Homo sapiens: one gene and its partners. The protein of the gene in region 1 purifies or fractionates together with the protein of each later gene. This does not show direct contact. Each region holds a gene or a part of one and is shown on either strand. Other genes may lie near its edges.

What was found.
Region 2: the proteins of CCDC43 (region 1) and PNKP purify together in Homo sapiens (affinity purification with mass spectrometry; 4 studies listed by BioGRID and IntAct, with this or other methods). This does not show direct contact.
Region 3: the proteins of CCDC43 (region 1) and APTX purify together in Homo sapiens (co-immunoprecipitation; one large-scale study listed by IntAct). This does not show direct contact.

What each region holds. Positions count from the first base shown.
Region 1 is NC_000017.11:44,683,195-44,686,844, forward strand, and holds part of CCDC43 (coiled-coil domain-containing protein 43), read right to left. Parts: intron 766-3,650; coding exon 678-765; intron 1-677.
Region 2 is NC_000019.10:49,860,554-49,864,576, reverse strand, and holds the end of PNKP (bifunctional polynucleotide phosphatase/kinase), read left to right. Parts: intron 1-173; coding exon 174-253; intron 254-340; coding exon 341-398; intron 399-505; coding exon 506-613; intron 614-816; coding exon 817-888; intron 889-1,838; coding exon 1,839-1,887; intron 1,888-1,968; coding exon 1,969-2,039; intron 2,040-2,113; coding exon 2,114-2,206; intron 2,207-2,295; coding exon 2,296-2,392; intron 2,393-2,471; coding exon 2,472-2,533; intron 2,534-2,695; coding exon 2,696-2,805; intron 2,806-2,881; coding exon 2,882-2,969; intron 2,970-3,066; coding exon 3,067-3,128; intron 3,129-3,211; coding exon 3,212-3,329; 3' UTR 3,330-3,373; downstream 3,374-4,023. UniProt on the Homo sapiens protein: Plays a key role in the repair of DNA damage, functioning as part of both the non-homologous end-joining (NHEJ) and base excision repair (BER) pathways.
Region 3 is NC_000009.12:32,974,726-32,977,631, reverse strand, and holds part of APTX (aprataxin), read left to right. Parts: intron 1-429; exon of another isoform or gene 430-1,243; intron 1,244-2,906. UniProt on the Homo sapiens protein: DNA-binding protein involved in single-strand DNA break repair, double-strand DNA break repair and base excision repair.

The DNA of each region.
Region 1 (3,650 bases):
TGAATAAAGCCAAATACCAACCATAATTTGTGTTATGAAATGACAACATGAGGCAGGGTGCTGTAGCTCATGCCTGTAATCCCAGCACTTTGGGAGGCTGAGGTGGGCAGATCACATGAGGTCAGGAGTTCGAGACCAGCCTGGTCAACATGGTGAAATCCCCATCTCTACTAAAAACACAAAAATTAGCCAGGCATGGTGACATGAGCCTGTAGTCCCAGCTATTCACGAGGCTGAGGCACAAGAATCACTTGAATCTGGGAGGCAGCAGTTACAGTGAGCTGAGATTACGCCACTGCACTCCAGCCTGGGTGACACAGCAAGACTCTGTCTCAAAAAAAAAAGACAACATGAAAAAAGTAGGAAGTGGTAAAAATATAGTTGACTCCATACCTGCAATGCAAATCTACAAGAAGCAGTGGAAAGATGATGAAAAAGAAAAAGTAAAAAACCACAATGAAGAAAACTGTGGTCAGTCGAAATGGAAAAATGCAAAAAAAGAAAAGGAAGCCAATGTTCAGTAAAGGTAACACAGGCTGTTGGGTGTTTGCCAGTGTACACTATCTTCGGGAAAATGAGCATCCAAGGGGAAAATGAAAAGATCTCTTCCTAACAGCTATACAGTCAAGGCTGCTGGAAAAGGCTCAGGAAGTTAAACACAGAAACTCTGACTCTACCTTCTTTTTTCACTTTGGTGACAACATTCTGAGTTTCTGACCATCGTTCCACAATCTCCTTGCAGATATTAAGGAGGGAATCTTCTTCCTAGTTGGAAAAGCAGACCAATTAATTTCCTGAGGGAGCCCTCAAAAACAATAGTAACCTCAAAAAAGCCTATGAAGAAAGCACAGCTCTCCATGCTGTGAAATTATGGAAGGGTCTGGGAGCCACAATAGAGTATGTTTCTTTTCTGAGGCTCTGGACACAGAATTGATCCTGCTTGTGTGTCCCAGAACCCACACCTCCTACATCAAGAACAGCCACTCCATCCTGATAAGCTCCAAGGGAAGATTCATACCAACTCAGGGCAGCCTTCCTCATTCTCTCTTAAAATATTTATTTTATTTTTAATTGACAAATAATAACTGTATATATTATATATATGTAGGGTACCCTGTGATGTCTCAATATATGTTCACATTGTAGAATAATTAAATCAAGCTAATTAACAAATCTATCACCTCACATATTTCTCATTTTTTTGGTGATGAAAACATTTAAGGCTGGGTGCAGTGGCTTACGCCTGTAATCCCAGCACTTTGGGAGGCTGAGGAGGGCGGATCACTTGAAGCTGGGAGTTCAAGACCAGCCTGGCCAACGTGCTGAAACCCCATCTCTACTAAAAATACAAAAATTAGCCGGGTGTGGTGGCACATGCCTGTAATCACAGTACTCGGGAGGCTGAGGCACAAGAATAACTTGAACCCAGGAGGCAGAGGTTGTGGTGAGCCGAGATCACGCCACTGCACTCCAGCCTGGGAGAGGGGAGAGAAATTGTCTCAAAAAAAAAAAAGAAAGAAAGAAAGAAAACATTTAAAATGTACTCTTTTAGTAATTTTGAAGTATACAATGCATTATTATTTATTTATTATTATTACTTTTTAGAGACAGGGTCTCACTCTGTTACCCAGGCTGGAGTGTAGTGGTGCAATCACAGCTCACTGTAACCTCAAACTCCTGGGCTCAAGCAATCCTCCTGCCTCAGCCTCTCAAGTAGCTAGGACTGCAAGCATGTACTACCACACCTGGCTAATTGAGTTTGTTGTTTTTTTTAAAAGATGGGGTCTCACTATCTTACCCAGGCTGGTCTCCAGCTCCTGACCTCAAGCAATCCTCCCATCTTGGCCCCCTAAAGTGTTGGGATTACAGGCCTGGGCCACCACATCCAGCCGATTATTACTTATTATAGTCACCATTCTATGCAACAGATCACTAAAGTATATTCCTTCTGTCTAACTGCAATTTTATACCCTTTGATCAACAATCTTCCCTTTTCCCATCCACCTCCCCCAATTCTTTTGGAGCAAAAACCTGTTCCCTAAGTCAAAACTCCTCTGTGAAATATTCCTTGGCTGACGTATACAATTCAGAACCTTCCCTAAGGTTATCAACTTTCATGCTAGATCATATCCATTAGCTTGCTGACACATAATAAAGAGGAGATACATGACAAAATGGTCTCTTGTCCAACCATCCCGCTGTCCATTTTAGAGAAGCATACATATTCTGCATACCAACCAATCTCCCTCCTCAGCATGATATAACAAAAATCTTGTCTTTAGTGTTAGAGATACTTAAGTTCAAATCCCAGATCTGTGAGGAAGTTTCTTAACTTTCTGATCTTCACATCCTCCCAGGATTTTACTGAGGATAAATGAAAATGTATATAAATGCCTACCCTACTTGTCAAAGAACAAGCATCTAATAAACACGAGCACTTCCCTCCATCTTCATTACGGCTGCATTCCCCACCTTCACGTTCTACCTCTCAGGGCAAGCTGTCAGCATTCACATTTATTAAGCATTTACCATGTGCCAGGCACTGCTCTAAAAGCCTTACATGAGAACTCTCAATTATTAAAATAATGCCATTAAGTACTATTTTACTCTCAATTTATAGAAGAGGAAACCAAAGCACAGAGGTTAATTACTTTGCCCAAGGTCTTACAAGTAATAATGGATTAAACACAATTTGAACCCCAGCAGTTTGGCTTAGAGCCCATGTTCTTTTTTTTTTGAGACGGAGTCTCGCTCTGTTGCCCAGGCTGGAGTGCAGTGGCGCGATCTCGGCTCAATGCAAGCTCTGCCTCCTGGGTTCACGCCATTATCCTGCCTCAGCCTCCCAAGCAGCTGGGACTACAGGCGCCCGCCACCACGCCCAGCTAATTTTTTGTATTTTTAGTAGAGACGGGGTTTCACCATGTTAGCCAGGATGGTTTCGATCTCCTGACCTCGTGATCCGCCTGCCTTGGCCTCCCAAAGTGCTGGGATTACAGGCGTTAGCCACCGCGCCCAGCCGAGCCCATGTTCTTAACCATCTCCCAAAGAAAAGTGGAGAGTCAGAACACAGACTTATTATGTATATCCTTATTTTGTACCCAGCAAAGGATTTCTTCCTCTACCTTGCATCCTTTTAGCTACATGCTAGACACACAGAACTTCCTTGGTCCAGAGTTTCAATAGTTCATGGGTTTCCCCCAACCCCCACCAGCAAGAAAAGCAAAGAAACAGAAAAAGAAAAAAGGATGAGAAAGTGGTACAGCTCTTTTAAAATCCCCCACCAAAAGAAAAAGAATGGCAGGAAAAGGAGCAGCAGAGAGGCAAAAGAGAACGGGAACTCTTAAGAGGACAAAGTGGTTTATTTCCTCAGTCTCCTCATCCAAATCAATGTAGTTCAATCATCCATTCCTTCATTTATTTATACAGAAGGTGCCTGCTATGTTCAAGGCACTAAGAGGAAAGTTTATCCTACTTACAATGCTCCTTTTTCCCTGGCACTTATCACTTTGTAACATACTATATAATTTACTAGTGATGCTTTTCCATGCTAGAATGTAACCGCATGAGGGCAGGAATTTCTATCTGTTTTATTCTTTGAAGTGCCCCAAGCACTTAGGGTAGTGCCTGGCATACGGTAATCCATCAATAAA
Region 2 (4,023 bases), on another chromosome or scaffold:
CACTCAGAGGCATCACGGATGCTTGAGATGGAGGTGCTCTGTGACTCGGTTTCCCCATCTGTGAGATGGCAGTGATAACACCCTGCCTGGCAGGGTTGGTGTGAGTCAGCCTGTGAGTGAGGAGGGTCAGAGGTATCACAGTGCTGCTGTTTGTCTTTCCTTGGTGACACCAGGTGGCTGGCTTTGATCTGGACGGGACGCTCATCACCACACGCTCTGGGAAGGTCTTTCCCACTGGCCCCAGTGACTGGAGGTGATAAGAGGCAAAACAAGGGAGTGAGTGAGGCCTGGAGTCCACCTCTGGCCCCGGGTCACCCCTGCCGCTTCATACCTGCCGTAGGATCTTGTACCCAGAGATTCCCCGTAAGCTCCGAGAGCTGGAAGCCGAGGGCTACAAGGTATGTGCAGCCGCCTGTCTGCATGGGCACGTGCACGTGGCGGTCCGACCGCAGTCAGACCAAGGCCCTGGTGAGCAGAGCGTCTGGTGACACCCTTTGCTCCCCAGCTGGTGATCTTCACCAACCAGATGAGCATCGGGCGCGGGAAGCTGCCAGCCGAGGAGTTCAAGGCCAAGGTGGAGGCTGTGGTGGAGAAGCTGGGGGTCCCCTTCCAGGTATGGCTGGAAGGGAGGCTGGGAGCTATGTGGGGGCACAGAGATCCAGAGCGAGGGCTTTAGACTCCAGGGTAAGCGGGGCGGAGGCCTCAGGCAGTGTGATGCTGATAGGAACCCATCATCAGCTACAAATTCTGGGCTGGGGTGGCATCCAGTAGGTGCTTGAGGGGGAGCTAAAGCTGGTGGCCCCCTCCCATCCACAGGTGCTGGTGGCCACGCACGCAGGCTTGTACCGGAAGCCGGTGACGGGCATGTGGGACCATCTGCAGGAGCAGGTGAGTCTTGCAGCCTGCCCGGCCCCCCTCCTTTTCCTCACTCCAGCCCCTCACTCCTGGGCTCCCCGGCCTCCGGTTGGGGCCTCCTTACTCCTCTGTCCTCTCTCGCTCCCTCCTTCTGTTTTTTGCTGTGACATCTTAGATGTTGGTTTACGAGACCAGTGCTTTCAGACTTTCTACATCAGAGTAGTAGGGAAGCTGTTCATTCCTTCGTTCATTCGTTTGTGTGTGCATTTGTTCTGAAGTTTAGCGCATTCTTGAGCTGAAGGTATCAGTGAGCGGGACGGCCTGCTCCAGCAGGGCCCTCACGGCGAGGGCGGTGACTCTAGGCGGATGGGCAGACTGGCGTGTAAAACAGCAGGAGGGAGGGAGCTGGAGAAAGCAGGCATCACCCGTGGTGGGCAGGGATGGCCTCTGAGGAGGTGACATCAGAGGAAAAGGCCTAAGGCAGGGAAAGGAGGGAGCCAGGTGGACACCTGGGGAAAGCGGTCCCCCCCCTTGTGGGAGTGACAGCAAGTGCAAAGGCCCTGAGGCAGTCCCTAGCCTGGGCTAGTTAGGGACAGCGAGGCCCATGCGGCTGGCTCTAAGCGAGGGAGGGGAGAGGGCAGGGCCACAGGGAGGGCCCCGCTTTTGCCCTGAGGGAGGGGGAACCTGGGAGGCGCCGGCACGCCGGAGGCTGGAGCTGTAGCAGGGTGGGTGCCCTCCGGTGGCCGCGTGGGGAACGGGAGGAGGTGAAGTCGGGAGACCTGGAGGGAGGGGGCTGTGTGGAGAGACCACGGAGGGGGGAGGGGGCCAGGAGCACGGTGCAAAGTGGCTGGAGAGTGAGGACATGAAAGGTCGGGGGATGATTCCTGATGTGGGGCACAGACCAGGCGAAGCAGCCCCAGGGACCCGCTACCGCTGCGGGGGGACATTTGTGGGAAGGGCCTCCTCACTACCGTCTCCCGTAGGCCAACGACGGCACGCCCATATCCATCGGGGACAGCATCTTTGTGGGAGGTAAGGGCCTGGAGGCTGCTGAGGGTGGGCTGGGACGCCTCCCTCCGAGCTGGTGGGAACGGGGTGTCCCGTGTGTTCCAGACGCAGCCGGACGCCCGGCCAACTGGGCCCCGGGGCGGAAGAAGAAAGACTTCTCCTGCGCCGATCGCCTGGTGAGGCCCCTGCCCCCTGCCCCGCGCCCGAGCCCGACCCTGGCCTGTGTCTGATGTTCGTCCTCAACCCCTAGTTTGCCCTCAACCTTGGCCTGCCCTTCGCCACGCCTGAGGAGTTCTTTCTCAAGTGGCCAGCAGCCGGCTTCGAGCTCCCAGCCTTTGATCCGGTGAGGCCCTGGGGCGGGGGTGGGGGTGGGGATGGGAGGGCTCCCGGGGATGGGGACGGCATCTCACGCGTGTCCCCCGCCCCTCGCAGAGGACTGTCTCCCGCTCAGGGCCTCTCTGCCTCCCCGAGTCCAGGGCCCTCCTGAGCGCCAGCCCGGAGGTGGTTGTCGCAGTGGGATTCCCTGGGGGTAAGTGTCCTGTTCCTGTGCGCGTGCCCTGAGCCCCGCCTGGGTCCTAGGCCACCCACCGACACTGCCCCCCACACAGCCGGGAAGTCCACCTTTCTCAAGAAGCACCTCGTGTCGGCCGGATATGTCCACGTGAACAGGGTATGACCAGGCTTTTGCCGCCCCAAATCTATTATAAAGTTCCCATCTCCACCTCTCAACTGGTTTGGGGCGGCTTTCCTCCATCATTGCCTCCCCGTCCCCGCTCGGGGTCTTCTCTCCCCCTGGGTCTGCCGATCTGTTTGTGACCTCTCGTGTCCCCAGGACACGCTAGGCTCCTGGCAGCGCTGTGTGACCACGTGTGAGACAGCCCTGAAGCAAGGGAAACGGGTCGCCATCGACAACACAAACCCAGACGCCGCGAGCCGCGCCAGGTAGCGTGACCGCGGGGCCGTAGGTGGCCTGCGGCGGGGTGGGCGGGGCCTGCACATCCAGCTCCTTCCCCCACAGGTACGTCCAGTGTGCCCGAGCCGCGGGCGTCCCCTGCCGCTGCTTCCTCTTCACCGCCACTCTGGAGCAGGCGCGCCACAACAACCGGGTGAGCCCGCTCAGCCCGGACACCCCCCGGGCTGCACCCCCTGACCCCCCTCCTCCCCTGACCCCTGGGCCTGCCGCCCCTCTGATGTTCCCCACAGTTTCGAGAGATGACGGACTCCTCTCATATCCCCGTGTCAGACATGGTCATGTATGGCTACAGGTACTGTTGGGGATAGCAGGGGGCAGGGGCACTGGCTGGGCCACATGATCCAGGCTGTCCCTCACTGTTCCCACCACTGCCAGGAAGCAGTTCGAGGCCCCAACGCTGGCTGAAGGCTTCTCTGCCATCCTGGAGATCCCGTTCCGGCTATGGGTGGAGCCGAGGCTGGGGCGGCTGTACTGCCAGTTCTCCGAGGGCTGAGCCCCGCCCAGCTCCCCTCCACAATAAACGCTGTTTCTCCTTGAGCTTGGCCGGCATTTTGCTGGAAGGAGGGTGGTCCCCACGGGGGAGGGGCTCCAGGCCTGCCAGTTTCTTACATGGAGGAGGCTTTAAGGACATTTTCAGGTAACAAAAGGTGGGGCCCTACCGAGGGGAGTCCAGCTGGGACCTGGCATGAGCACTTTAGACATTAGCCGGGGAACACACAGGGAGGGCGCTGTGTGGCCCCCCGAGAGCCAGCTGGTGAGCCCACGAGCCTCAACCGAGGGGCTGGCTCAAGGCCAGGTGTGACCCCTGAGGACAAAATCCAGCTCAGGTTCTGTGACACTGAACTTGAACCCAAGGCCTGCGGGTCTGGAGATTCGGGGGGGAAGAGGGTGTGGACAGCCGAGAGCCAGACCCAGTGAGTTCCCGGGCTGTCCAGCCTGCTGGGCCACCTTAGAGCTAGGGGGCTGCAAGGCATCGGGCAGTGAGCAGAGAAGGCAGGCAGGTTTTTAAAAGGCTTTATTGGGGAAACGTAGAGGGGTGGGGACCGTCCTTGGAGGCCTCAGGACACCATCCTCCATGTTGCTGGGCAGTTGAAGTCCCCAGGGGCCCCTGCTCAGAAGCGTGTCACCTGGGGGCAGGGGTGCAGTGGGGGCTGCTGGCCACAGGCTCCCAAGCACTGACCCCACAT
Region 3 (2,906 bases), on another chromosome or scaffold:
CTTGAACTCCTGGCCTCAAATGATCCACCTGCCTTGGCCCCCCAAAGTACTGGGATTACAGGTGTGAGCCACTGCACCCAGGTTTTTTCCCCCCCATTTTTATAAATGAATTTTTTTATTCATTTTTTGTTTTCGTTTTTGTTTTAAGAGATGGGAGTCTCACCCTCTCTCCCAGTCTGGAGTACAGTGTCAAGATCATAGCTCACTGCGGCCTTGAACTCCTCGGCTCCAGGTATCCTTTTGCCTCAGCCTCCCGAGTAGCTGGGGCTATGGGTGTGCCACCATGCCTGGCTGATTAAAACAATTTTTTAGAGATGAGGGTCTCACTATGTTGCTCAGGCCAATGTTGAACTCCTGACCTCAAGTGATCCACCTGCATCAGCCTCCTGAGTAGCTGGGATTACAGGTATGAGCCACGTGCTTGGGTCATTTTTATAAATTGATATGAAACTTTTATCAATTAAAATTCTGGTAATTTATTTTTATCTCTTAAGTGAAAATGTACCTTGACTTTTTTATTTTTTAACGGTTTAAAACATGTGCAGTAGAAATTCTCTGTTAATACATAAATGGAAATTACATTTTTTTTCATATTGGCGTGTATCTACAAATATTAAAGGACAAGAAAAGGTAATATAATTTTAGGTTTAACAAATATGGTGTATATTCAAATAATACTTGACCAGCTTATCTAAATTGTACATAATATTTGGACTAGCATATGAATTTGATTTTAATTATTATGTTCACAAGCCTGGGATAATTAGATGTTATTTTGCATCTGTAACTGTAATCATTTCTTGTAATTTCTTGTGCAGGTGTATTGTACTTAATAGATTTTACTTTTGGAAATATGACTGTTGAAATTAGCTTAGCTTTTATTTACTGTTTGTAGAGTATTTTCGTTTTGGAGAAGAACACTGTTTTAGTTTAGGACGCTTTTCAAGAGTGAAAGCTTCTGATGATTTTTTTCCCTCATAGGAAGAAATACTGGAAAGAAAATGTTAGTATAATGCAGTTATTGTAACAGCTTATGACTTGATTTTGATTTGGAAACCTATACTGACCAGATATTAAGCTTAAGGATTGTATAAATCATTAAAGCTGTGGTCTTTTCATATGGAGGTTGATAGATAATTTTTTTGTCTTGAGTCTTATTTGGTGACTTTCTATTCATGTAATTCATCATGTGTGAGTGAGGTTGTTGAACAAACTGAACACATGGGCTACAGCAAGTAGTTTTTATTTTTTTTTATTATACTCAAGTTCTAGGGTCCATGTGCACAACAGGCAGGTTTGATACATAGGTATACATGTGCCATGTTGGTTTGCTGCGCCCATCAACTCATCATTTACATTAGGTATTTCTCTTAATGTTGTCCCTCCCCGAGCCCCCCACCCCCCTGACAGGCCCCGGTATGTGATGTTCCCTGCCCTGTGTCCAAGTGATCTCATTGTTTAGTTCCCACCTATGAGTGAGAACATGCAGTGTTTGGTTTTCTGTCCTTGTGATAGTTTATAGCAAGTAGTTTTACAGTACAGATCTTTCCATTACATTTTATTGTTTAAACAAAACAAAATTTGTTTTTCTGTTAGGAATAAGAAAAAAATGGTTTTTACATAGGTTCTTACGGTACGCTTGGAGTACACTTACAGGCCACTGCTGCAGTCTACATTTTATTGTGCTGAATCTGCATTCTATCAGATACCCATGGAAAGACCTCAGTATATGCTTTGCACTCTGCTTTGCTCCCCTTTTCCAATTTCCTATTGCAAATCATTTTGATGTAATACAGAAAAAACAGCATTTAAATATCTACATGAAGAGTTGACCCACTAATGTCAGCCGACCTCTACTTTGTCAGCTCATAGTTAAATCTTTTATCATTTCAAAAATAAAGTGCATTTTCTTTTTCTTTTTCTTCTTTTTTTAGTGATGGAGTCTAACTTTGTCACCCAGGTTGGAGTGCAGTAGCATGATCTCAGCTCACTGCAACCTCCACCTCCTAGGTTCAAGTGATTCTCCTGCCTCAGCCTCCCAAGTAGCTGGGATTACAGGCACCTGCCACCACGCCCAGTTAGTTTTTTGTATTTTTAGTAGTTAGTTTCACCATGTTGGGCAGGCTGTTCTTGAACTCCTGACCTCAAGTGATCCACCTGCCTCGGCCTCCCAAAGTGCTGGGATTACAGGCGTGAGCCGCCGCACCTGGTTGCATTTTCAAAAGAATGAATTTAAGAATAATAAAATTAAAATAGGCCCACTTTTAAATTGTGGTCCATTTTATAATTCAATTTTTATTGTTAACAAAAAAAAAGAGTATAAATCAGATAGTAGCACTCTTCGGCTGAAAATCCTTCAATGGCTTCCCAGTAGATTCAGAATAGAATGCAAACCCTTTGTCACCTTTAAGAGGCTTTATGACCTGGCTCCTGCCTCGTTTCTGCTGCTTGGCTCCAACAATTCAGGCCATACATTTGGGCCATATTACCTTCTTTCTCTTTCTTGGTTGCACTGAGCTTTTCCTCATCTCAGGGCCCCTGCTCTTGGCCTCCTCACTTTCTGAGACACTCTTCCCACAGACCTAGCTTGCTTGGGTGCTGTCTCCGTTCAAATCACTTCCCGGGAGATGCTTTCCCTGAACACTGTTAACTAAAGAGGGCAGCTTCTACCCCTGGGCACTCTATCCCATTTTCCTTGTTTATTTTTTCTTGGCAATGTTAATTCTTTAAGTTTTTTTTTGTTTGTTTATTTGTTTGCTTATTTATTATTTGTCTTTCCTCATTAGCGTACAATTTCTATAAGGGCAGAGGCTTTTCCCATTTTGTTTCTTGCTAAAGTCTCAGTGCCTGGAACAGTGTTTGGCCATAGTACATACTTATTGAGCATTAAATATTCTTAAGTAAAT